3 separate regions of the Homo sapiens genome follow, and regions 1 and 3 are each linked to region 2. Evidence: fine-mapped expression QTL. A gene starts in region 2. Each other region holds a variant in brackets. All regions are shown on one strand. Distances are between the middles of the regions.

Region 1 (8,183 bases), 20 kb before region 2:
GCTGAGTGCTTGGTTTAGGGTAACATTTAGCAAACCAAAAAGAGTCTGTCTCTTCCCACCAGCCCCATCAGCCCCCTTGTTTTCCTGCACTAGAAAACCAAACTCTCAGAGGACTTCTCTCTTCTGTTTGTCGGACAAATGGGAAAATCATAGGGCTTGTTCCAGTTTTCATACCAACGTGGAGCTGGACAAGCCGGCTGACAGCTGGCAGGGAACCTTCAACCGCAGCACCGGAGGAATGAAGGCTTAAGCCTCAGCGCTGTCCCTGGACAGTGCCACATGTCCAACAGCAGATAAGGGCACCCTGAGCTGTCGGAATGTCAGACACAGCCTCCCAGTTAAAGGTGGGCAGAAAGCAACTATCAAGATCTTTCAACAGGAGGGAAAGCTAATTTGGAATCCTCAAAGGGCTTTCTACTCCTCTCTCCCGCTGTGGGCAGCCCTGAGTCTACTCAAGCCCTTGTCTGTCCCCTTTTTATCTCAGAGCTTGGCCAAAGCTGAGTATGCAACTGCTGCTCAGTCACTCAAGCTTCCAGCAAGCCACCCTTCCATCTTCCCAAATCACAGAATTCAATTACTTCAGCTTGTGAGGTGAAAGCACTTTGTGGATTTTAAGGTATCATTCAAATAAACATTACCATCAATATCACTATTATTAATCCATAATTAGCCACAAAGCTCTTCAATACTATAGATGTAGAGGATGACCAGGTAATTCATATTCCACCAAAGTCTTTCAACTGGCCAAAAACAGTCCATAAAATACTTTCCAGCCATTTCTCGGCTCCCCATAAAATCACAGTGACGTCTCCCATGCCAGAAAACATCAGTGCTTTTGATGTGAATGCCAGCGAATTCTTGGTTTTCCTAATGCATGGTTTTGACCACAGTCTAGTTTCTCTCAGACCCACATCCAGTTCTTCCAGGGGTTTAGAAGGGCCATTTGCAAGGTTAATTTAGTAAGGATGTTTTAAACAATGACACAGAAATGCCTCCTGCTAGAATAAGCAACTATCAGATCTCACACAAGCTCAGTGTGGGGCCCCTTGAAGACAAGCACCTCCACACCTCGTTCTTCTCTAGGTGCAATTCTCTCCAACCCAACCATCCCCTTCCACATACACACTCACGCACAGCAAGACCACCCCAGCACAAGACCTGGCTCACTCAGTGCTTTCTTCGTTAATTCTAGTTTATTAATTTTTGTTTTAAAGTATAGCCCCTTTTCACTTCAATAACTAAGAGAAGTCTGCGGGTAACTTCAAGTCAAAGACATCAACTTACAAAAAGAACTTCCATAACAGAGCTATCTCATACTATGGATCACTGAGGGGTTACTTCTGAAATGAAAACACACAGCTATAAAAAACAATCATTTCAATCTCTGCATAATTAAATAAACTCTAAAAAGTCATCCCTATGCCCGAAGAGAATTTAGTTGTTTATTCTTGGCATATATTAAATTTATAATGTTTGCTTTTGGTTTTTAAAAGTTTCTGAGAGTTCTCATACCTACTATTACTTTGCAAAGATATAGCCACAAATCACAGGACAAAGAAAAGGAATATATTGCTGAGGGTCAAAAGCATGTTAAAATTCCTTGCTTTTCCAAGTGAAAATGTCAAACCTTCTAATAAGAGCATAAGTAACAACCGATTGAGAACAATTTGTCCTCTTCCTTTCTCCTACTGATTCAATGAATAATTTTACTTCTTGCAATTTTATGGCTGAAACTTATTTACATTTTAGCCAAAGTAAGAACTTGTACCCAGTTTTCTTTTTCTAATAATTCTTTTCTGCTAGATTCAACGTTATCTACATAAAGAAAAGAGTTTCAAGTTCTGGTGCTAACATTAACTGCGCACAATAAAAGAAATACACAGATAAAAGCAACGTGCGTCTCCCACCTTCTAGAGCGGCAAGCTGCTGCTCAGCTTCCAGGTACAGCTGGGAAAAGATGGGCCTGGGCACCAGGTTGTTGGACCGCAGGGATGCCTCGATGGAATTGTGCAAGACCTCTTCAAAGCGTGTCGTCTTCAGCTGTCCAGCGTAAGAATTTCCCATCTTCAAGAGGATGGAGTCTTCTGTTTAAAATGGCATCTCAGATTCGGTGCAAAAGCCTGGCTCCACGCAAGGTAGAAGGTGAAACAGCTGCAAGGAGGAAGGGCCGTGTAGCCTTCGCTCAGCAGAGACGAAGAAAGGGTGGCTGTCCTCAGCTGCAGCTACTGCCGGGCAATTACAGGAAGTTATATAAGTAACAGCTTTCTCTAATTTAGCACTCAGCAGAGCCTGACACCTCTTAGACTGTTTCACTAGGAGCTGCCTCTTTTGCCATCCCCAGGTTTCACAGGACTCCCACTTTTCCCAGAGATGTGGTCCTGCCCCTGAGAGTTCCCAGACGAATGACGTTTCATTTTCCATGACCTGCAGACGAATGGCCCTCCAACACTCTTGTAAGTGACGGCAAATGAGCGATCCACCAAAACCAGTCCCAGATTTGAGGATTAGAGGAGCCGGCCTCCCCCACCTTCCCAGAAGATAGGCTAGCAGGTCTCCCACCATTGTCTTTGCTGGTAAAAGGCTGATTATTCTCATTCTTCCTTTAAAATGTTTTTTAATCTACTAAATGTTTCCATGATTCAAGTAATACAGAATTATATCTGGAAAACCTGGAAATCACAGAGGAGTGGGAAAACGAGGAAAATCACTGACATTTCTATCCCCCAAGAGATTTATTTTCTATCCCCCCAAAAATCACAGAGAACCACTGTGACTTTTTTTCTGTAGCAACTTAATTGAGATATAATTCACATACCTTACCACTTAAAGTAGACAACTCAATGGTTTTTCGTATATTCACAGTGTCGTGTAACTATCATACGATCAATTTTAGAATGCTTTCATCACCCCAAGAGGAAACCCCAGACCTATCACTCTGCAACCCTCCAACCCCTCCAGCTGGAGGCAACAATTAATTTATTTTCTGTCTCTATAGATTTGCTCATTCTGGATACTTTGTATAAATGGAATCATTCAGTACGAGGTCTTTTGTGACTGGCTTCTATCTAACGTTAGCACAATGTCTCCAAGATTCATCTGTTTAGCATGAATCAATACTTCATTCCCACTCACGTATTTTGATGTATTGTTTTAGACTTAATTCTCTTCAGAACTTGCAGATGGGAAGGGATGGGAGATTGTATTCACATAATTATAATCATACTATAATACACATTTTTATTGTTTTTGTTTTTCCTTGACATAAGCATTTCGCTCAACCCTCTTGCAAATGTTTTTAGAACAATTTTAATGGCTGCTTCCATTGAGTGAAAATGCTGATATTTGTTCTGACATTTCTCCCTGATCATACATAGGGTTAAATTTCTATTTTCAGTCCTTCCCAAGAACAGGCATTTAAATGTGTATATGTCCATAATGTTTTCCATTTATTTTCTATTTCATTACATTTAGCTATTTGTTATATTTCTCTTTATTTCCCTTTGGTTTAACTTGTACTTTTTCCAAACTTTTCAAAATAGTTACTTTATTGTCATCTTTAGTTTTCATCTTCATTAACAACGAAGACATTTAAGGCTATACGTTATTCTCTGGGCACCTCCTTTGCTATGGTACAAGGTTTAGTATGAAGTGTTCTCCTTTTCATTTCTTTCTAGACAGTTTATCATTTCCCTCTGATTCCCTCTTTGATCCGTTAATTATACAGGAGTGTGTGTTTAATTTTTAAACAGTCAAGACAGCAATGGGGGGTGACTTCAGCTTCATATTATTTATTTCCAGTTTTTAATAGATTATAATCAAGACTGTGGTCTTTAGAAACTCTACTTTTGAAACTTGTTAAGGGTTTCTTTTTGACATATACCTGCTGGAGTTTTACAGATATGAGAAAAGACATTCGTAAACTCTACAAGGGATGAAAGGAAATCAATCAGATTATTCAACTGTTCTATATCCTTGTATGTCTCTTGTCTACTAGCCTGTTCATCTTTAAAGTAACATTTGACATACAAAATGGCACCAGATGCCTGCACTGAAATGACCACAGAATAGCAGTTTCCTGCCTTCATCTACAATTACTGCACACAGACCAGTTATGAAACTGGCTTCATCGGTCAAGCGAGATCTCCCATTCACTCTAACTCAAGCCATGTGTAATAAATTCCCCTCGTCCTTGTTCTGTTGGTGGCAGAGTAGCTTCAAGATGTCATCCTTCATGCCCTGAAAGAGTTCTGCTTTCCCTCCCGAAGGTATAATAACTGGTAGAGTCACGTTGATTTCCCGCCCCTATTGTAAGAAAGATTCAGCCTTTCCTCTTCCAACTAAAAGTAAATGGAAGGCATTAACCACTTCCTGCTTGTGGCAATAACTTCTGACCACAGGGCCCCTTGGTCAGCCTCTGCTTATAGCCTGGGGAAATGAGCTGTGGGAAGATTGCTTCAGGAATTAGCCCCAACAAAAAGAAAGTGCTCCTGAAAGAGAGAGGTCAGCAGCCGGAGTAACCTAACAGGAGAGCAGAAGAGGTTGCAGGGTCCTCT[T/C]GTCTGCCTTTTTTCTCGATCTGTGGCAGACTTTAATATGTGACTGAGGGGTTGCCAGCCACATTTGGGGACACCTGCATTATTCTCAACTCAGGGTGGTGTGTTTAAAGCTGCCACCAACGAATAACATCCCAAATGCCCTCTGTTTCCATAGCATCTTTGTCTATAGAGCTTAAGGCACACAGGAAGAAGCTTTAAGGTGGACTCGTTTTACATGGAGCCCCTGAAGAATCATGTCCTCTGACAGAAAGAACACATCGGGGCATCCAGACCCTCCCTGCCCAAGGTCCTGTTCAGCTGACCTCACAGCTGATTGGCACCCAGGAGACTCCAGCAGCGAAGGGACATGTAGGCCTGATGTAGACGGGGCAATAAAAATGAAGAAGGAAAAATAATATCCACTGTCCAGCCACTGCGTGCAAGACACTGGGCACACTCCCTACTTCACACACATGGTAGCCCATGGAAGAGGTATGATGAAGCCCATTTTATAAATGATACATTTGAATCTAGAGATACATAGCCGGCAGAAACGCTTGCTGAAAAAAAAAAAATAGAATGGGGGAAAGATGGAGAAAGAGACAGAGAAGCTAAAAACAAGACAGCATAGAAAAGTGGGGTTTTTTGTTTGTTTGTTTTTTGAGACAGGATCTCACTTTGTTGCCCAGGCTGGAGTGAGTGCAGTGGCATGATCTCGATTCTGCAACCTCTGATCCTCCCACCTCAGCCTCCCCAAGTGGCTGGCACTACAGGAACATACCACCATGCCAAGCTAATTTTCACATTCTTTGTAGAGACGGGGTTTCACCATGTTGCCCAGGCTGGTCTCGAACTCCTGGGCTCAAGAGAGCTCCCAAAGTGCTGAGACCACAGGCATGAGCCACCATGCCCGCCCAGTAAAGTTTTCATACTCACAAAATTAAAACTTTATTTTATAGCCCTAAACAAACATCAAAGTTTTAATGTCTGTAAGCAAATAGTGAAAGAAAAAATAAATACCACTCCCTATCCCAAATGACGCATTTGACATCAGAACAATAAGTACATACCACTAAAGAAGAATGAGGAGGCATTGCAACAGTATTCAAATCTGCGGCTCTTTTTTTTTTTTTTTTTGAGACGGAGTTTCGCTCTGTCGCCCAGGCTGGAGTGCAGTGGCGCGATCTCGACTCACTGCAAGCTCCGCCTCCCGGGTTCACGCCATTCTCCTGCCTCAGCCTCCCGTGTAGCTGGGACTACAGGCGTGCGCCACCATGCCCGGCTAATTTTTGTATTTTTAGTAGAGACGGGGTTTCACCGTGTTAGCCAGGATGGTCTCGATCTCCTGACCTCGTGATCCGCCCGCCTCGGCCTCCCAAAGTGCTGGGATTACAGGCGTGAGCCACCGCGCCCGGCCAACTGCGGCTCTTTTTGTTATTCCATTGTGGCCACAACCAAACAGTGTGGGGACTTTCTAGATACCATGGCAGTGCTCTATCTTACAGACAGACCCTGACTGCAAAGCCACACCTGCTGGGTGAGGAAGGTTTGGGCCAGACCGGTCCTGCCGCGGAGGTACATCTGGAGCTCTCTGACCCACTGGAATCCGTCATTTGACCAGTGGAGAACTAAAGACCCAGACAGGGAAGAGCCTAGTTCAAGGTCACACACTAAAGCTTCAATCCTCCCAAATGCCGCATGGAGTGGAGACAACACCTATCAAAGGCCTCCTTGGGATGGTCCTTCTTTCCCTGGGCTGGCCCTGACCACTCGTTCTCTGTCCGTGGTCTCTTTGCTAGATCCCTGCTGCAGTTATTCAACTCTGCAGACTGCCTGTGGGATTTCTTCCACGCCCTAACACATCACATCCAACGCCTGCATTCCAAGGCCTGGACCAGCTTCTCTCCAGGCTGGTGTGTGATGCTCTTCAACTACAGAATCTGAAGCAGTGCCCATCAGGGCAGTGATGATGGCCGAACAACAGCCTTCACCTTAATGCACAAAAGCCTGGCTGTACTAGTCTGTAAACAGCATGCGCAACCCCACGCAAAGTGATTTAATCACTGGGCCTTGGTGTTCTCAACTGTAAAATGGGCACTTAGAAAAACTGATTGCTCGTTACGGACAGTAAGAGAGACGGAGTATAGTCAGTGCGTAATCATTAATTTCTAGTTAAATCTGAGCATTCACAGGAAAAGAATTTCAGATTATAAATGACAAGTGACAAAAAAGCACTATTGTCCATAAGTGCTACAACTTAAAAGAGGGGAGAAATCAGTGAGAACTTGGTTTACAATGGGGCTGGTACTGGAAGCAGGCCAGGAGGGCTGAGTAGGATATTTTTGGCCACGGCTCGTCCTGCTCCACTTCTTGGTTCCATGACCGGGAATCGAACCCGGGCTGCGGCGGTGGGAGCGCTGAATCCTAACCACTAGACCACTGAGTAGGATGTCTTTGGAAAAAAAACTAAGAACAGCATTTGAGGAAGGGACAGGAGAGTGCAAAGGCACGAAAACTCCAAGGGAACAGACATACTCTAGAAAAAGAAGTAAGTTCATTTGCCTAAGAGTAAATGGTTTACAAGATGACACAGTGATAGAATAACAAAAACAAACCCAAGGGTGAAAATCAGACATTGTATAGGCGACAGACACTCCCTGGACCCGCAGAGCTAGAGACCGATGATAGTAAAGATAATGCCAGTCAATCAGACAGAAATGATTAGGATAAAACTGGAGGGAAGACCTGCAGGCAGGAGGCCGGGCAGACACTCTTTCAATAGGACCTTTGATATCTGCTTATCTTTAAGAGTGAGGCACAAAAAGTTGCTTGGAAACTCTCTACGTGGAGATTCAACTGGTTGCCTGGTGGGCTTCATGGGAGGTGATCAGATGTGGGTTTGTTTCACCATATCAACCTCAAACATAGCTCCATGTCAGCTCAAATCACAGCACCAGTACCTAACTTCCACTGGCCCTTCTGATCCCAGAAGCACCATGGGCTTGACCAGATGAAGCCAACTGACCCAGGTCAGTTTGAAGTGGCAACAGTGAGCTAGCTCAACATGCTCTAGGTGGCTGGGACATTGACCTGAGCTATTCTCTTCCCATGGTACCAGTAAATCTGTGTCCTTTAGAGGACTCGGGTAGAATGAGAATTTTTAGGTTGAGTTGAAGTTCAACTAGAATAAGTGCAGGGCAGAAGCTTCAAGGAAGATAAGGAACTATTAAAGGCGGGGACAAAGAAAGGAGAGGAGGCTTCTGGTGAAATGGGACAGATGGAGAACATGCATTGTCTCTAGTCCCTTCAAAACCTCACTAGAAGGACAGTGAAGGAATGTGCAGGTATAAGGACCCAAAGACAAAGAGACAGGAGAGAAAATCACGGCAGACAAGATATGCCAACAAAAGTTAGCATTTTCAAAGCAGACGAGAAGTAGGGCTAGATTTGGAAAGTGTCCTTTCCAAGCCCAGTCCTGAACTGGGTGAGGCCTCCTGAGGAGCAAACTGATTCAAATGCACAGAACCCAGAGAAGGCTTGGGAATTCCAGGCAACAAGGTGAAAAGTAGGGCTGAAGAGTGGGAGGACTCCCTCTCCCTTCCCGAGCAGCCCTTTCCCCTTCTCTGCAGAAGTCTGGAAGTTTACTCAGGA
Region 2 (8,183 bases):
TCATTTATCTTTTGTAAAAAAAGGTTAAAGAGGTGGATTACTCCTCTTGGTGCCCCAGTCAGGGAGGAGAGTTCCCAGCTGTTCCTGGGCTCAGTCCCCAAAATTGCCAGGCGCTAAAGGGTAGAACTTGTGTGGTGGGCTTCTTCGTTCCCAGGCTGGGCAGTGCCTCCCTAGAAAGGGCAGTGGAGACCCCACCCATCCCTGCACCTTCATCGCCAGGCAGGGGTGGCACCCGCTGGAGGTTCTGCCCGAGCGAGCATCTGCAGCTCTGAAGCATCCCTAGTGCCAGGGCTTTACTCGTTGGGGAGGCACACTGTACGCGGTCTGTACGTGGAGTGCCCCGTGCCTTCTGCCACTCAGGGCACCGTGTGTGACGGTGGGAAACTGGAAACTAACAAAATACCCAGCAAAAAATGCATACTTAACACAGCCTGCAATAAATGCATAAAAGCTATGTGCATGAAGAGTTTGTCAATGATGCAGACACACTTAGGATACAACATTCAGCAAGATACATTTACTGTATAGAAAGATAGGTAGATCCTGCGGATAATTTTAAATTCTTATATATGAGATCATATATATTAAAATACATGTATGTATTTTATGTTAAAATAGTATATTTTATTTATAAATATATAAAATTTATATATTATTATATATTATATAAATATCATATATTTATCTAATATATGATATTTATGTAATATATAATATATAAAATATTTTTATATTTTTATATAATATATAAACTTATAACATGTTAAAATAGTATATACTATTTATTATATTTTTAGAGAAGGGAAGAGAGTTTAAGCAGTAGAGTTTTTAAGATGATGGGCTCTGGAGCCAGGTTTGGGTTTGAATCTTCACTTACTGGATATTAGACCTTGAGCAAGTTACTTAACCTTTATGTGCCTCAGTTTCCCCAACTGAAAAATGGGAGAAAAGTACTTGCTTCTTAGAGTTGTGTGGATTTAATAATTAGTATGTATAGGGTGCTTAGCATGGTACCTGGCACATATATAATATTATACATGCCAGGATAATAGTAACAATTCTTACCAATATGAAGCTTGCCACCTGTGAATAAATAAATTAAATGTGTAAAAGGGACTGAAAGAAAATGTCGGCCGGCGCGGTGGCTCACGACTGTTATCCCAGGACTTTGGGAAGCCAAGGCAGGCAAATCACCTGTGGTCAGGAGTTCAATCCCAGCCTAGCCAACATGGTGAAACCCCATGTCTACTAAAAAATGCAAAAATCAGCCAGGCGCGGTGGCGGGTGCCTGTAATCTCAGTTACTTGGGAGGATGAGGCAGGAGAATCTCTTGAACCCAGGAGGAGGAGGTTGCAATGAGCCACAATTCCAACACTGCACTCCAGCCTGGGCGACAAGAGTGAAACTCCATCTCAAAGAAAAATAAAAAAAAAGAAAATATCTATGGTACTTGCCTCTAAGAATTCAAGGTTTTTTAAAACATGCTTCTTTCAACTGTGCTGTAAATTGCTAACTTTTAAAATTGATGTAACTTACTATTATGAGGAGAAAATTAGCAAAGTTTGCCTTCATTAGGTGTGAATTGCAATGACTTTGAACCCACTATGCTTTCTAATTACTGTCAAAAATAGGCTTTTGATGTGAAAATAGCAATGAGGTACCTAAAGAGGAGAGAGCTCACCTCCAGTGTTAACTCCATCTGCTGTGCGGCTCTCTTCTCAGTTTAAATCTGCAATTCTTTGCTTAATGCCAGTATCTCTTCTTGCCATAAATCTCTTTGTTCTATTCTATACATAATGCTCTTCTACCCCTGGCCAAATCCTCTCCACATTAAACATGACAATCATAGCCACAGTTTGGCACTTTTTGGCATTTTTCTCTTTTTGGCCACAATGGCTAGGAGTGATAACTTTCAAAAAGCAGAAAAGTCTCTACCTATCCAACAAAATGCTCTAGAAACTATATAACCACCATTAATAAATAAATATGGCTTGGCTTTTACAAAATGTTTCCCTGAGAGGTTTCCAGATCACTAGAGAAGACAAAGCTTTACTGGGACAAATCATGCGGGGTTGGTGCTGCTGGCACTGCCTGGTTGCTGACTGCCTGGGGCACAAGCAGTGCCTCCGTATCCTGTCACACCTCCGACTCTGCACATGCTGTGTTCCCGCTGCCTCATCCCTCAAGACCCAGTTCAAGCATCTCTTCAATTGTGTGGTGGTTCTGACCTCCCGAAACTGAGCTGGGCATTCTCTTTGTGTCCCCACCACTCCTGTGTATGCTCCAGGCTTGCGGTGGTCTCCCAGGACCATGGTTAATCTGTGTGCTTCCCTCTCTCCCCTGCTGCCTGGGATCCCCAGGAGAGCAGAGAACATGCAGATGTACGCCCTTGGCCAATCACAGTGCCTAGGAAATAGAAGGTATCTGATAAGAGTTTATTTACAAGGTAGTGTTTGCATTTTACAGGGAAAAAAAAAAGAGTTCAGGGCAGCAAGAAGAAAGAAGATGAACAATTCCGACATCCATATCCAGGCAAAATGTAGACAGCCCAGAGATTTCAGAGATTTAGTGGGCACGGTCAGGAAGTGGGGAAGATAAAACAAATCATGTAAGTGGGGCTAATGCAACCTTTTTCTATACTCGTGAAAACCCAAGGACCCAAGCCTTCCCATCTAGTTAAAGACTTTCCTCAGCCTCTCCCCTTGAATCACCGAATCCTAGACTCTCAGACCTAGAAGTAACCAAAGAACTCAATCAATGTATTTCAATCAACACACACCTTATTTCTCTATTATTTATTTATTATTATTTTTTAAGTGTCATCCTGTGTGCCAGGCACTGGAAACTCGAAGAGTAAAGTCCTTTCCTTGTAAAAATGCTGTTTAATGGAAACAGACATTTAGATTATGGTATGAGAATTAACTTCTAATTCAACATGGTACCTGGCCCTTCCTGAGATGACCTTCAAAAGATACTGAATTAAAAATAAATAAATAAATAAATAAATAAGTGGGGTGAGGTATTTTAAGCCACAGTGATGAAAAGATGGAAGGGATGCCATTAGCTAACTAGAGGTTCAGGTTTCATAAACTTCCAGAAGCCAGACTAGAGAGGGAATGTGGAGCTGACACAGGAGAAGGGTGCATACCTGGGGGGACCAACTGGCCCTGAGGAAATGCAGAGACTCAGATACGCCAGACAAGTGTTGGGAGGAGTGCACAGCAGCGCTGGGACCAGGGGTCTTCTGTGAAATCCTGTCTACAGAGCAGGTAGCTCCTCTACCTCCCACCCCAGGGCCACATGCAGATCTCCCAGGAGCCAGGCGTTCACCCCAGGCAAAAAATACCGAAAGCTCTTCTGATACAAATTGAATCAACCAACAAGAACTAGAGCCGCTAACGCACAGTCTGGCATTCAGAGGCCTCCAGAATGCCAGCTGATTCTGTCCTGAGCACCCCAAAAGTGACACCTGCCAGACACCAGCGCCCCCTGTGGACACAACACTCCCAGTCAACCTTCTCTGCCTCACTCTTAAACACACATGAAAATCCAAGGGTCATGTAGCACTTAAGGAAGGAAACATGAAAACAACATCCAGGAGAAGAAACAGAAGAAAAGACACCAAAGCAATCAGAGAACAACCAGGTATATGTGAAGAAGAAGCACACATCCCCCTCTAATTACCATCCTCAGGAAGACTGAGGGCCACACTCTGTTTCCCAACCAACCCAATCACTGAGCCACTCAACAATCACACAAGAGGAGCTCTCACGGGTGAGCCTGTTGATCTGGCTTTACTGCTGAGGGGCCCCCAGGTAAACTGAAGAGCTGTGCAGAAAGGCTGGGGGTATGAAAGCCGCACGCTCCCCACTTCAGCACACAGGGTCAGCAAGAGTTGCAGTGATGTTCCCACATACAGTCAGTTCAGCTATAACGCTTGTTTTGAAACTGCAAATTTGTACGGACAGATTGACATATTACAGAACAATTTGAATACCTTGTGGGTTTTGTGTGTGCCTGGTGATTTCCTCTGCAAGAAACACAAAAGTAAGTTCAGAAAAATGGTGCCCAACTGACCCCAGCTGCTTGAGAATATACAAAAGGCGCACACACACCAGCCTCAAGCACCTACCACCTACCTCCAGTCACCACACGTGTTAAAAGCCATGTCCTTCCACACATGGTGTCAGAACTTTCCATAGGGCTCCAGGTCTCTGTCCTTCTTCCATTTGGCAGGTCCTCAAGAGCTGCAAGCCTTCCATTGAAAAAACTTTATTTCATTTACCTTTGCACTTTGAGGTAAAATCCCATCTCTACTGCAGTATTTATGTATCTCTTAACCATTTAGCATGTGTAAAACGGTGCTGCCCTTTTTATTAGGTTTTTATCTTTTTAAAAAATGTGTCATTGATGAAGTTTTTGAGAGCTGTTGCCCTAAGCCTGTATTCGTCATAAACCCTGCGGTTTTTATTGCCCAATCTTGCATGGTGCAATAATTTTTAGGAACACATATATCAAGTTATAGTAGAATTGATTATGTGTTTACATTTCTGCCTGCAAGCTACAATTTTCTCCTAGGGGAGAACATGGCGGGAGAGCATGGTGTGCAGATTCTAGTTTAGAAAATATGGTCCACACAACTGAATTTCACACCAGTCACCCCTAGTTCATTGTTTCTGGCTACCCCAAAACGTTCATCACCGGCTTGCCTTTCTCCCTGCACTAAGCTAGAATCTCAAAGAACCAATTGTTGGGTTTTGTTGGTAGCAATCTGTGTATCATCCATTTTTTCCTCCATCAAACACAAAATTAAATTCAAGCATAAATAATGAAATTGTTGTTCCCGGCTTCTGTTTACAGAGTCTCAGGGACGCTGTGGAGCTGGGTGTGCCTGGGTCCAGTCCCTGCCCCCTCACCCACCGGAGCTGTGTGACCTTGGACAGCCTCCCTCACTCCCTGAGCTCCAGTTTCCTCAGCCATAAACAGAGATAACAGTGCTGACTTCAAAGCTGACTTTGTGAGGATTAAATGAGATAATGTAGTAGAGTATTTAGTACTGTGGCTGGCACTTCAGTGTTTTCCCATTTATCTGTTTTTTTCAAGATGAGTGATCTCTTTGCTGATCATAAACATATTCCTCCATCTGTCTTGTGTTATTCGCCTGCATTGAAATCCCATCCCAATCCCCGTCTCTATTTGAAAGTGGAGCTTAAAAATTGCAAAAATGAATAATTGGGATGTGCAAAACCTCTTAACTTGTAGCACCAAGTTTTTTGTCTCATGTTGATCAGTCTCTCTCTTCTTGCATTTCTCTCCCATTAGTTTGGAGTTGCCATTCATTCCTTCATTTATTCATTCACTCAACAAACATTTATGGGTGCCTGGTATCTACTGGCTATGTGACTGACTTAACTTCCCAGAGCCTCAGTTTTCTTGGCAAAATGAAGATAATAATACCTCTATCATAAGGTTGTTGGAAGGCTTTCCATGACACCAGGACCGTAAAGCACCTTTTACACCGTCTGCCATATGGCAGGTGCTCAACAAAGGATATCTTTAAGCAGTATCATCACGATGACAATGGACAAGCCATATCCCTAACAGGGCTTAAACCTGGATAACAAGAACACTGTTTCCACTGCGCTAGTGGGGACAAGCACACACATCGCTGGGAAGATCTGCAAGCCTCCCTCCTCCCACAGACCCAAACATGCTGCTGCAAATGTCTCACTGGCTACAAAACAATGAGTCTGATTACGACCCACAGAAATGAAAAGGCAGCAAACTTGTTTAGGTATGATTCATCATTGTCTGCTGCGGCAATCAGAAGTATTTTGGTTGCTTCTAGGTCAGAATGACCCAGTTGCCACACTTTTTTTCACTGCTAAAGTTCGTAATGAACCTTTAAACAAAAACTAAAGGCGTAAGGAAAGATAACTACTTTGTGGCTTTTGCTCAAAGTGAGGACGTTATCAGCTCTGCCCTTCAGAAGCAAGCCCTGATCAAGGAAACCATTCACACTTGATTTTCTTTATTTTATTGGCCACAATTGAACATAGGTATAATTTTCATGAACCTCCCTCGCTCCAAGACCAGAGCTCCTAGGAAGTTGTCTTTCCCATCTGTTTCCCGGCCCCTACCAGAAATAAGTGCCATGAGAGTGTTGACTGATGAAGGGCTCCTATACGCGGGTTGATTTTCAAGCAGTTAAGAAGCAAGAATTAATGACTCGAATATATGATCTTTGCTAAACTCTTCAGGAATAAATGAACATTTCCCACTTTATTCTTGCTAATGTTGACTCCTTAGCAAAGATAATTTCAACATATTTAATATGGCATATTCAAATGACAGAAAGTACGAAACAATAGTAGAAAGCAGAGAAAAGTATATATAAAGAGAGAAAGCGGTATCATTCACATCTTTAACACCTAATCTAATTGTAATTTTCTTAAATGCATAGAAAAAAGACTGGGAGGAAATACACTAAAATGTTAACAGTGGGTATTTTAAAACAAGAATTAGGCGAGGTGCGGTGGTTCATGCGGTAATCCCAGCACTTTGGGAGGCCGAGACGGGTGGATCACTTCAGGTCAGGAGATCAAGACCAGCCCGGCCAACAGGGCGAAACCCTGTCCCTACTAAAAATACAAAAATTAGCTGGTCATGGTGGCAGGTGCCTATAATCCCAGCTACTTGGGAGGCTGATGCAGGAGAATCGCTTGAACCCGAGATGCCAAGGTTGCAGTGAGCCAAGATGGTGCCACTGTACTCCAGCCTGGATGACAGAGCAAGACTCTATCTCAAAATAATAATAATAATTAATTAATTAATTAAATGTTTAAAAATAAAATAAAAGCAAGAATTATACGCAATTTTTTTTTCTTGTTTCTAATCATCTGTATTTTCTAAATTTTTTACAAATGATCACATGCATTTTTTATAAACAGCTTTTTTGGGGTAAATTATAATCATGAAATTCCGTCAAGCTTGAATCTCTCTGTAGGCTGCACAACGTGGAACAGATGAAAGGAACCAAATGCTGGAGTCGCACCAACCTGGCTCTGCCTATCTCCAGCAGGCAAGTCACTTAACCTCTATACAATTAGTGGTCTGAACTAAACCAGCTCCTTGGCAGCCTAGGCTCTAGCTCAACATCTGCTTGTATGCGTCAAGCAACTACACTCCCACAGTAAACTGGGAACCTACTGGGAGCTAAATAGAAGCAAATATCCCCAGGCCTGGGTGACACTGACTGAGCTGACCTCCAGTACAGGGCCTGAGGCCACTCAGGAAGCAGCCAGGGCACCTGCCCACACCCTCCAAACAGGCCCACCTACCTAGGGAACTCTTTCTCCCTGGCACTAGGCTAGTTTTGGGGGGGTTAATGGAGTTATGGACTGGGATGGGCAGCCTTGTACAAAGGGCTTCTCTGGCCAGAGAGAGCCGGTGTCTGCTCCGCAAACACCAAACTTCCCCACCCTTCCTGGCCAGCCTCAGATCCTATTTCCCCCACACAGCCTTCCCACATTGGCCAACCCTCACTCTAACCCCTTTTTAAAAATTGTGTGTATTAAACTTAAGTAGATACAAAAGAATATTGGTATGTATGTTGCACAGACTCATGATATGATGAACACCATGCACCACATGCAGGTTCTGGTGAAGGTGCACTTCATCATCGTCTTTGAAGTCCCCTTCTTGTCCTCCATCCCTGCCCCCCATTAACTCACATCCTGAATTTTATGTTTATTTTTCCCTTGCTCTTCATGATTTTAACAACATGATGGATTTAATTGTAACTTAATTTTTTTTTTTTTTTTTTTTTGAGACCGAGTCTCGCTCTGTCCTCAGGCTGGAGAGCAGTGGTGCAATCTCAGCTCACTGCAACCTCCGCCTCCCGGTTCAAGCGATTCCCCTGCCTCAGCCTCCTGGTAACTTAACTTTTAACCTAAATTTTAACATAGATTTTACTTTTTTTTTTTTTCCTATTTGGCAAAGATCAACTTTAGTGTGCATAAGAATCACCTAGGGCCGGGCGCACTGGATCACACCTGTAATCCCAACACTTTGGGAGGCCAAAGTGGGTGGATCACTTGAGGCCAGGAGTTGGAGACCAGCCTGGGCAACCTGGTGAAACCCCATCTCTACAAAAAGTGCAAAAATTAGCTGGGTGTGGTGGC
Region 3 (8,183 bases), 79 kb before region 2:
CCCCCGGCCCCAACAACAGGAGCCTGCGGCCACCGCACACACCCGTCCCCGCACCCAGGCCCTGCACGTCTCGCCCCTGAGCCTCTCGGCCCTTAAGGCTTCCTGCACTTGCAACACCTTCCGCAAGGCCCGACTGAGGGTCAGCTGCTCTCTCAAACCTGTGGTAACCTCACCTACCCTGAAATCTGCCCTCTGCCTTGGGACAAAATTACAGACTTCTTCATATGTGAAGTGAAAATGTGTGCAAAAGACTACTGCAAAATAACACGTCTTTTATGAGAACAATGAGTTCGTTCCCTGAGGTCAGGTCTACATCTCATTTATCCTTCAGTGCTGATCCAGATAGCAAGTAGGCCCTCAGAATGCTTTTGGCGGAAAGACAGGGACTGTGCGTGCTGATGGCCGACGGTGGCCCCTGACTTGCCCGGGGCCTCTGTTTCTCACCAGGGGCTCTGCCCTCCTCTGCGGGATCCTGACTACTCTCGGAGACAGAGGAACCCCTTAGGGCAGAGACCGTGTGGAGCCTGTGGTTGGCACTGCCCACCCGCTGTGGCTGTGGCTACGCGGAAGGCTCATGAGCTTGTGTTGCCTTTTGTTGCTCTTCCCCCAGTGAAGTCTCCATGTCTACTTCTCTCCTTGCGCTCAGCTCCTCTCCCCACAGGGCACAGGGTTTTCCCAAACCAACAACGGCAGGGAGAACACCCGGGGACCCGCCCCTAACACGGCCAGGACTCAGCCTGAGGCCCCAGCCACAGTGAGGGGCAGGGTCCACGGTCCTCCCCTGAGCACAGGGGCAGCAGAACCCTACAGTCTTGCTCAGTCTTCAAGTTCTCCGATCCGAAGTTGACCACAATATTTACTCTCTAGAGAGTCTAGCACTTCAAAGATTTCCTTATCTTTCCAGTTCTGATGGAAAATAAAGGATCAGCAAATAGCCCTCTATAGGTTTCTTTTCATTCTCTGAAACCTCAAAAATCAGTCTGCTGGTCTGGTCCTTCCCGTGTGGGAAGACTCACCGGAAGCCTTGGAGGAGAGGGATGAGGATGCTGAGTCGTGGGAGCGGGACCTCTCCCTTTTCATGGGGCTTCTCTTCTCCGAGGTAGAGCCTGTTCCAAAACACACACGCTGAGAATGCACCGAAATCACCATTCCTGACATTTGCCCAGCACTTCACAGTGTGTAAAGTGTGTTCCCATGCATCACCTCTCCCCATCCATTTACTCATTCACTGCCATCTTCCAGGCCCCCACCATGGACAGAGCACTGAGGAGACAGGAGGGAGTGGGCTGCAGTGCAGGGAGGCACTCTGGGTGCAGCGAAGGCTCCTGCCCATGAGGCACAGCTGCAAGCTGGTGGAGGAGATGCAAAGAGAGAGGGGTCGGGGAGCCTGGGGGAAAAGCAGGGCATCTCCTGGAAGAGGGGGGCATCTGGCCGTCGCCCTGAAGGGCCTCAGGGTTTTGCAGGTAAAGTAGAGAAAGGAAAACTCTGAGCAGCAGGAAGGGCAGCCGTGCAGCGCAGAGGCCAGAAGGGCAGGGCACAGCCCGGCCACTGCAAGTTTAACGTGGGCCAGTGCTCAGTGCAATGCGGGCTATGGGTAGAGAGAAGCAGATGGTGAAACTAAAGAAGGGGGTCCTGAGATGCCAGGGAGCACGGAGACGTGCAGCAGATACTCACAAATGAAAGAATTAAATCAGAGTCTCTGCCGTGCTTCGAAAAGATGGCTACAGGCGGGCAGGCCTTTCCATCTACATTTTACAGACGAGCAAGCTGAGGCTAAGAGAGGTCCCACAGTCAAGACAGACAAGGCAGACCACAGACCCGCGCTGGTGCCCACACCCACCTCCTTCCATTCCACACACTCCACAAATGCTTTCTAGTTTTTGAATGACTGTCTACGTCTTTCTCATCACATTGTTGACTATAGTCAATGCCTTGCGATGTTATCATTTATGTGTCCTATTAAAAAGGCGGCATCAGATTTGAAGAGTCTGCAAATGAGCCTGTTTTCACACTTCTTAAAAATGGACAGCACGCTGTTGGGTTGATTCACAGAGGAAATAAACAAGCAAATCACACTAGGTGGGAATTCCACCAGTGAGTGGAACGAGGAACTCTAAGAAATTTTGAACTTGAACTCTAAGAAATCTTAATTTTTCTTCCTATTCTTTAAGAATTCTAGAACTAGGAAAAACCTATAGGGATTTCCATTTTCTCACACCACCAAAAGAGATGGGGAGAAAACAAACAAAATCTGAATTCAGTGAGAGCTCTGCCATTTCATCCAACACTGGAGACCTCTCATCCAGAGCCGCTGTCCAGCAGACAGGTCCCAGGACCCTGCTGAACTGGAGACAGCTGTCTCCATAAGCACAGGCAGCCTCAAAGCTCAGAAGCCAAGAAAGACATGCAGACAGGGACAAGTAGGCTGAGGGCAGCCATCCCTCACCTTCTGTCCCCAGCTCCTCATCCTCGTTGTCTGTGCTGCTCAGCTTCTCAGCATCACTCTCCAAGGCCTCGTTCCTAGCCCCCTTCTCCAAGGGAACCTCGTTGCTCACAAAGTAGGCAGCCAGGCCCAGCTCCTGCTCCAAGGCTGTTCTCACCAAGCAGGAGGAGTTTATCAATCGCAGGTCACAGTACCTCAAAGACCTAGCAAGACACAGAAGAAGGTGTCTGTTTAGTGCCTTCCACAAGTGGAGTGCTGTTCCCACTGCGGCAGGCAGCACTGATCGGGACCACACCCCACCTTCCTGGTGAGGACCCAAGGACTCGTACAAGTGGAAAAGCCAACAGTGTTACTGGGAGCTTGCAGCAACAAATTCAGTATAATAGTAAATCTTTGGGGACACCCACTATGCATTTAGCTCTGTGCTGCACTAACTTTTGGGTCAGATAAAAAAGGGGCTTGCAGCACTTTGGGAGGCCGAGGCGGGCGGATCACAAGGTCAGGAGATCGAGACCATCCTGGCTAACACGGTGAAACCCCGTCTCTACTAAAAATACAAAAAATGAGCCAGGCGTGGTGGCGGGCGCCTGTAGTCCCAGCTACTCGGGAGGCTGAGGCAGGAGAATGGAGTGAACCCGGGAGGCAGAGCTTGCCGTGAGCCGAGATTGTGTCACTGCAATCCAGCCGGGGCGACAGAGCCAGACTCCATCTCAAAACAAAACAAACAACAACAACAACAACAAAAAGGGGGGGCTTGAACCTGAGCTCTGCTACTTCCTAGCGACAGAAGCCGTGACAAGCTGCACAACTTCTCTGAGGCTCTGATTTTTTCATCTGAAAGATGGGAATGAATATTAATAACCATCTGGCTGGGCGTGGTGGCTCACACCTGTAATCCCAGCACTTTGAGAGGCGAAGGCGGGCCGATCACTTGAGGTCAGGAGTTCAAGACCAGCCTAACCAACATGGCAAAACCCCATCTCTACTAAAAATACAAAAATTAGCCGGGTGTGGAGGCAGGTGCCTATAATCCCAGCTCCTCGGGAGGCTGAGGCAGGAGAATCACTTGAACCCAGGAGGCGGAGTCTGCAGTGAGTTGAGATTGCACCACTGCACTCCAGCCTGGGCAACAGAGTGAGACTCCGTCTCAAAAAAAAAAAAAAAAAAATCTAAGTCCGCTGTGATAAAGATTAAATGTAATCAGTGAGCATTTAATTATTCAATCCAAGTGAACACAGGCCAGGGTACTAGATGCTAGAAATATGATGGCAATCAAGTCGGACACCAACAAGCAATGCTATCTGTGAGCAGCAGAGGAAAGGCCAACCCCGTGCTCAGACTTGCGCAGCAGAAACACAACCAAGGCAAAGGGCTTAGAGAGGGGTACGTGAGGGTTCCAGTGGGGCTCTGAAACTTACTGCTCATGACCTCAAGCAAATGATCGTTCATTGACTCAACCATGAAACAGGATGGTAATACTACTGCAGCAAGGAGTAAGTTTCATATGAAAAGTCTATCATGATGCCTGGTACAAAGAAGGTACCAGAAGGTACCTGGTATTCAGCAAATGCTTGCTAAAATTTAAAATAGATTAAGACATTGTCTCAGTCCTTAAGGAGTTGAAGAAGAAAAGAATTAATCCATGTGAAATAGCAACAAGCAAGGTCAAATGTTCTGGAGCCCCCTTCCCCTGGCCCATGAGTATGCAGCATGCACAGGGCCGTTTGCTGAAGTGTGGGGTGCTCCTGGGGGAAGAAGCCAGGCCCACTGCTGGCCAGACTGGCTTAATCTCAGTAAGCCTCAGTTTCTTCATCCGTAAAATGGGACTACTGAAATAGCACCTTTCCCCCAGGATTAAGGTGAGAGTAAAATGAAATAAAACCTAAAAGAAGAATCTAGGACAGTTCCCAGAACATAACAGGAATTCCACTGATGTCGGCTTTTGCTATCTTTTGCTGGCCGTCTGCTCTTCTCCACCGGTATGAAGTCTCTAAAACCCAATCTGTCACTACCAATCCAAGAAACTGCCTTACAGGAGGCCCAGGGACCTGAGTCTCGAGTGTCCGCATGTCTGTGTGGTGGCCTAGAGACCCCCCACACCAGCGGACATCGAGTGGATATGTGGCTAAGACTTTCCAGGCTGTGATGGATTCAGAGGGACACATCTTTTGAGACAGTCCACTCTGTGCTGGAAGAACCAGCTCTTCCCGAGCAGCGTCAGTTGCCTCCACTCCCAGAACGCCTCCTAAGCCGGGAGGGCCCAGGCATTGCGGCAGCCTAGGTACCAGCAGGAACTGTGGCTGCAACTCCTGGAGAGGATGCCGTACTGTCCCAAGCAGAACTGCCATCCCCAGCACACACAGAGCGCCCCATGGGGAGACACTGAACTCAGGAGGCATGAAATCCTGACTCCACCTGCAGAGCCTCCACCCGTAGAGCCTGGCAACAGCCGTCACCACGAGCCCAAACAGCGCCTTTCTGAGAATCAGGAGAAGGGGCA[C/T]GGGCCTCAGACGCACTCAGGCCCATGCTGGGAAAGCCACGATGAAGGCCCCACCCACGGGGCCTGTGAATGTGAGTGGTGCTGCCTACCGTCAGGGCACAGCAGCCCCCCTGACATGCTCCTTGAGGGGGCCCAGGCAGCCAGCTCCTCAGAGACCCCCAGGGGCATAACCCCTCCACTCACCTCGGCAAGGACTCCCCATGCGGGTCCATCCCACTGAAGATCAGGATGCAAGGCAGACCCTCCAGCTCCAAGTAAGTCTGGGGTCTCCACTCCACATCCTCAATTTTCTGCCACATCTGCAGATAACGAAAAAGAAATAAAGCCACAGACGCCTCCCTTCCCAACCAGCCCAGCTCAGAGGAATCCTGATGGCCTCCCACACCAATTTAAACTCCTTGAACTATATCTTCTGACCAAAAGGAAATTTCTTTAGACTGCAAATAAGCACACCATCCACTTGGCCACCGTATTTTCAGTCGGCTAGAACATGGAGATTAGCCAGCCAGAGCATGTCCAAGACATCTCTATCAGCTGACCAGCTCCGTGAAAGGAAGTCTATGTTGTCAGCTGCTCCTTAAGTCTTTTTTTTTTTTTTTTGAGACAGAGTCTCGCTGAGTCACCCAGGCTGGAGTGCAGTGGCGCAATCTCAGCTCACTGCAACCTCCACCACCAGGGTTCAAGTGATTCTCCTGCCTCAGCCTCCCGAGTAGCTGGGACTACAGGCGCACGCCACCCCATCTGGCTAATTGTTGTATTTTTAGTAGAGACAGGGTTTCTCCATGCTGGCCAGGCTTATCTCGAACTCCTGACCTCAAGTGATCCGCCCGCCTCGGCCTCCTAAAGTGCTGGGATTACAGGTGTAAGCCACCGCGCCCAACCAGCTGTTCCTTATGTCTTGCCTGTGCTCTCTCCTGACAGTGTCCTCCCTTTCATTCCTGTTTTCCACTCATTTGTTCTTTCCCTAAACCTTTTGCATTTTCTGTCACCTGCAGATTGAGTGAGAACCTACTATGGGCCAGGCGCTGTGCTAGGCTTTGGGGGCTGAGTTCTGTGGGGATGGCCATTGCCCCCCACCATCTGGGAGAGGGGCTAGATGACAGGCAGGGAGCATGGCACTGCCCTGGGCATGGCAGAGGGGGAGGGTGGCTTCCTGAAAGAGGAAAGACACCAACCTAAGTGCTGCAGAAAATAAGCAGGGCAGCTCACACCTGGAACCCAGCACTTTGGGAGGCTGAGGCAGGAGGGTTGCTTGAACTCAGGAGTTTGAGATCAGCCGGGGCAACATGGAGAAAATTTTAAAAATTTTAAAAATTAGCCGAGTGTGGTGGCACACGCTGGTGGTTCCAGCTACTCAGGAGCCTGAGGTGGGAGGATCCCTGGAGCCCAGGAGCTCAAGGCTGCAGTGAGCTGTGATCACGCCACCGCACTCCAGCCTGGGCCACAGAGTGAGACCCTGTCTCAAAGGGGAAAATAAAGAAGCATCAGCTAAACAAAGAAGAGAGGAAATGGATGCCCAGGAAAAAAGAAAGCAGGCTGTTGCCCAGAGGTCTAAAGTCATAAGGCAATGCTGCAGGGGTGTGGGGGTGCTGCTGGGGCGGAGGGCAGAGGTGGGGAAGCACAGAGAGGAGGCTGAGGGGTGGCTGGGTCTAGGGAAGCCACGTTGGCCACGCTGTGGGGTTCGTGACACTCCCTGCCTCTGGTGGGCCCCTCAGCTCTCCCAGGTACCCCCAGGCCCTCCGCCCCTCCCTGCGCACAGCACCTACCCTGAGCTGCTTTACGAAGTGCTTCCCCACGGTGACGCCTGAGCTGGGACTGCCCAGGATGATCTCAAAGTGCTCCTCCAGCGCCAGCCGGGCCCGCACGTGGGCCAGCCGCTCATAGGCCACCACCGCCAGGGGCGAACAGGGCACCCGCAGCAGGACCATGAGCCCGTGGCCGCAGGGGCACTGCTTCGGGGAGTTGAGGAGGTTCTGCGTGATCTCCAGCGTCTCCACCGACGTGTAGTTCTTCATCTGCGGGAGGCCGCTTACGGCCATCAGGGCGGCCGCGTAGTGCTGCACGAGAACAAAGGTCCTGATCACCGCGCTGTGCAGGCGGGGGAACCTGCAAGGAACACAGAGAGACCATGTCTGTGACGGCCGCGCCCACCGGCCTGCTGCTGCCAAGTCACCCAAGACATCCGTCACTCTACCACAGGCAACTCCGGCATTATACGCAGTTGTGTTGCCTCTGGAAGGTGGTTGTGGGAACCTGAATGAGAAGCCTTCTTTAGAAATCAAATTATACAGTCCTTTGTTTTTTCCAGCTGGAAAACAAAAACATAGGTTTGTTGTTATTACGTTTTTCCAGCATTTGGCACTTAGTAGCTGCTCAATAAATATTTGTCCAATGAATGAGCAGATGAATAAATGGTATAAATGCCTATTTTGTCTCTATCAGCACAATGTGCAGCTCTCTGAGGAGGGGACTAAGTTGCCTCTGGTTCCTACTAGAAACAGGAGAACCACCAGCAATCAATATGGAAATGCAGCTACCGGAGGCCCGAGTTCTAAAGGCCCATCTCTGTGTTCACTTCGATCACAGTGAATTATTAGAAATATAACTAAACGTATTTTGACAGACTAATTACAAATCAGAACATATCCAGCCAAATCAAGAATCCCAGTTTTTGCTTCAGAAACTGTGGTTACTATCTGTGTCCCCACACAAAGGTGGTGGCTGCTCCCACAACCACCTGCTCTCCTAGAGTGGCTCTGACCCGTTAGTCACACAGACCCCAGGGCACCAATGGAAAAGCCCAGGTCCCTGTAGATGATGGTGTTTCTCAACGTGAATAAATAAATTGGTATCCAGTTTATGCACAATGTTCTTCTGGGTTGATTGAGCTGGAATGGGTCCTCCTGACTCTGGCTTTTTGTAGCAAAGGTAAGGTAGTTTCTCGACCTACAAAAATGAGTACCATACCGTGGCCATGCCACCCTGTGAGTTCTATCAGGGCAGCCAGCTCGCCTTCCTACAGCACTTGATAGCATTTCTGACATTGCGATGACATCCCTGCTCCTTCTTCCTGACCATCCTCCTCCTTTTCTTCATGTTTCCTTCAGCACTTCATCCACTACGCAGGTCACATAAGCTGGAAGCTGGCCTGGCAAGCTTGCCATTACCAGGGCTGTCTAGGAAGGTATAACTGGTCCACAGACTCTGGCATGAAGGGGACTCAGCAGCCCAGGGACTGCT

Alleles and levels. Alleles are on the strand shown, and positions count from the first base shown. SD is a standard deviation of normalised expression in the study named.
For the expression in memory regulatory T cells of the gene that starts at base 4,349 in region 2, allele T in region 1 goes with a lower level than allele C (large effect, 1.3 SD a copy in Schmiedel 2018).
With allele T in place of C in region 3, the expression in caudate of the gene that starts at base 4,349 in region 2 is higher (moderate effect, 0.59 SD a copy in GTEx).

What was found.
Region 1: its variant is fine-mapped to the expression of GREB1 in memory regulatory T cells (Schmiedel 2018, PIP 0.95).
Region 3: its variant is fine-mapped to the expression of GREB1 in caudate (GTEx, PIP above 0.99). The same link has a PIP of 0.9 or more in amygdala, anterior cingulate cortex, cerebral cortex, hippocampus, prefrontal cortex and putamen.

Annotation. Positions count from the first base shown.
Region 1 is chr2:11,550,496-11,558,678 of GRCh38, reverse strand. GREB1 (growth regulating estrogen receptor binding 1) reads right to left here. Exons shown (of 33, transcript NM_014668.4): 2 at 1,908-2,225. The coding sequence starts at 2,064. It also overlaps the pseudogene TRG-CCC7-1. Among named protein-coding and RNA genes, the nearest start is that of MIR4429, 14 kb to the right of the region's middle. The variant T/C (reference allele first, on the strand shown) is at 4,554.
Region 2 is chr2:11,530,211-11,538,393 of GRCh38, reverse strand. GREB1 (growth regulating estrogen receptor binding 1) reads right to left here and starts at 4,349. Exons shown (of 33, transcript NM_014668.4): 1 at 4,140-4,349. RefSeq lists an enhancer at 1-255.
Region 3 is chr2:11,609,554-11,617,736 of GRCh38, reverse strand. GREB1 (growth regulating estrogen receptor binding 1) reads right to left here. Exons shown (of 33, transcript NM_014668.4): 18 at 6,710-7,049; 19 at 5,127-5,242; 20 at 2,447-2,646; 21 at 1,017-1,106. Among named protein-coding and RNA genes, the nearest start is that of NTSR2, 57 kb to the left of the region's middle. RefSeq lists an enhancer at 1,012-1,512. The variant C/T (reference allele first, on the strand shown) is at 4,944.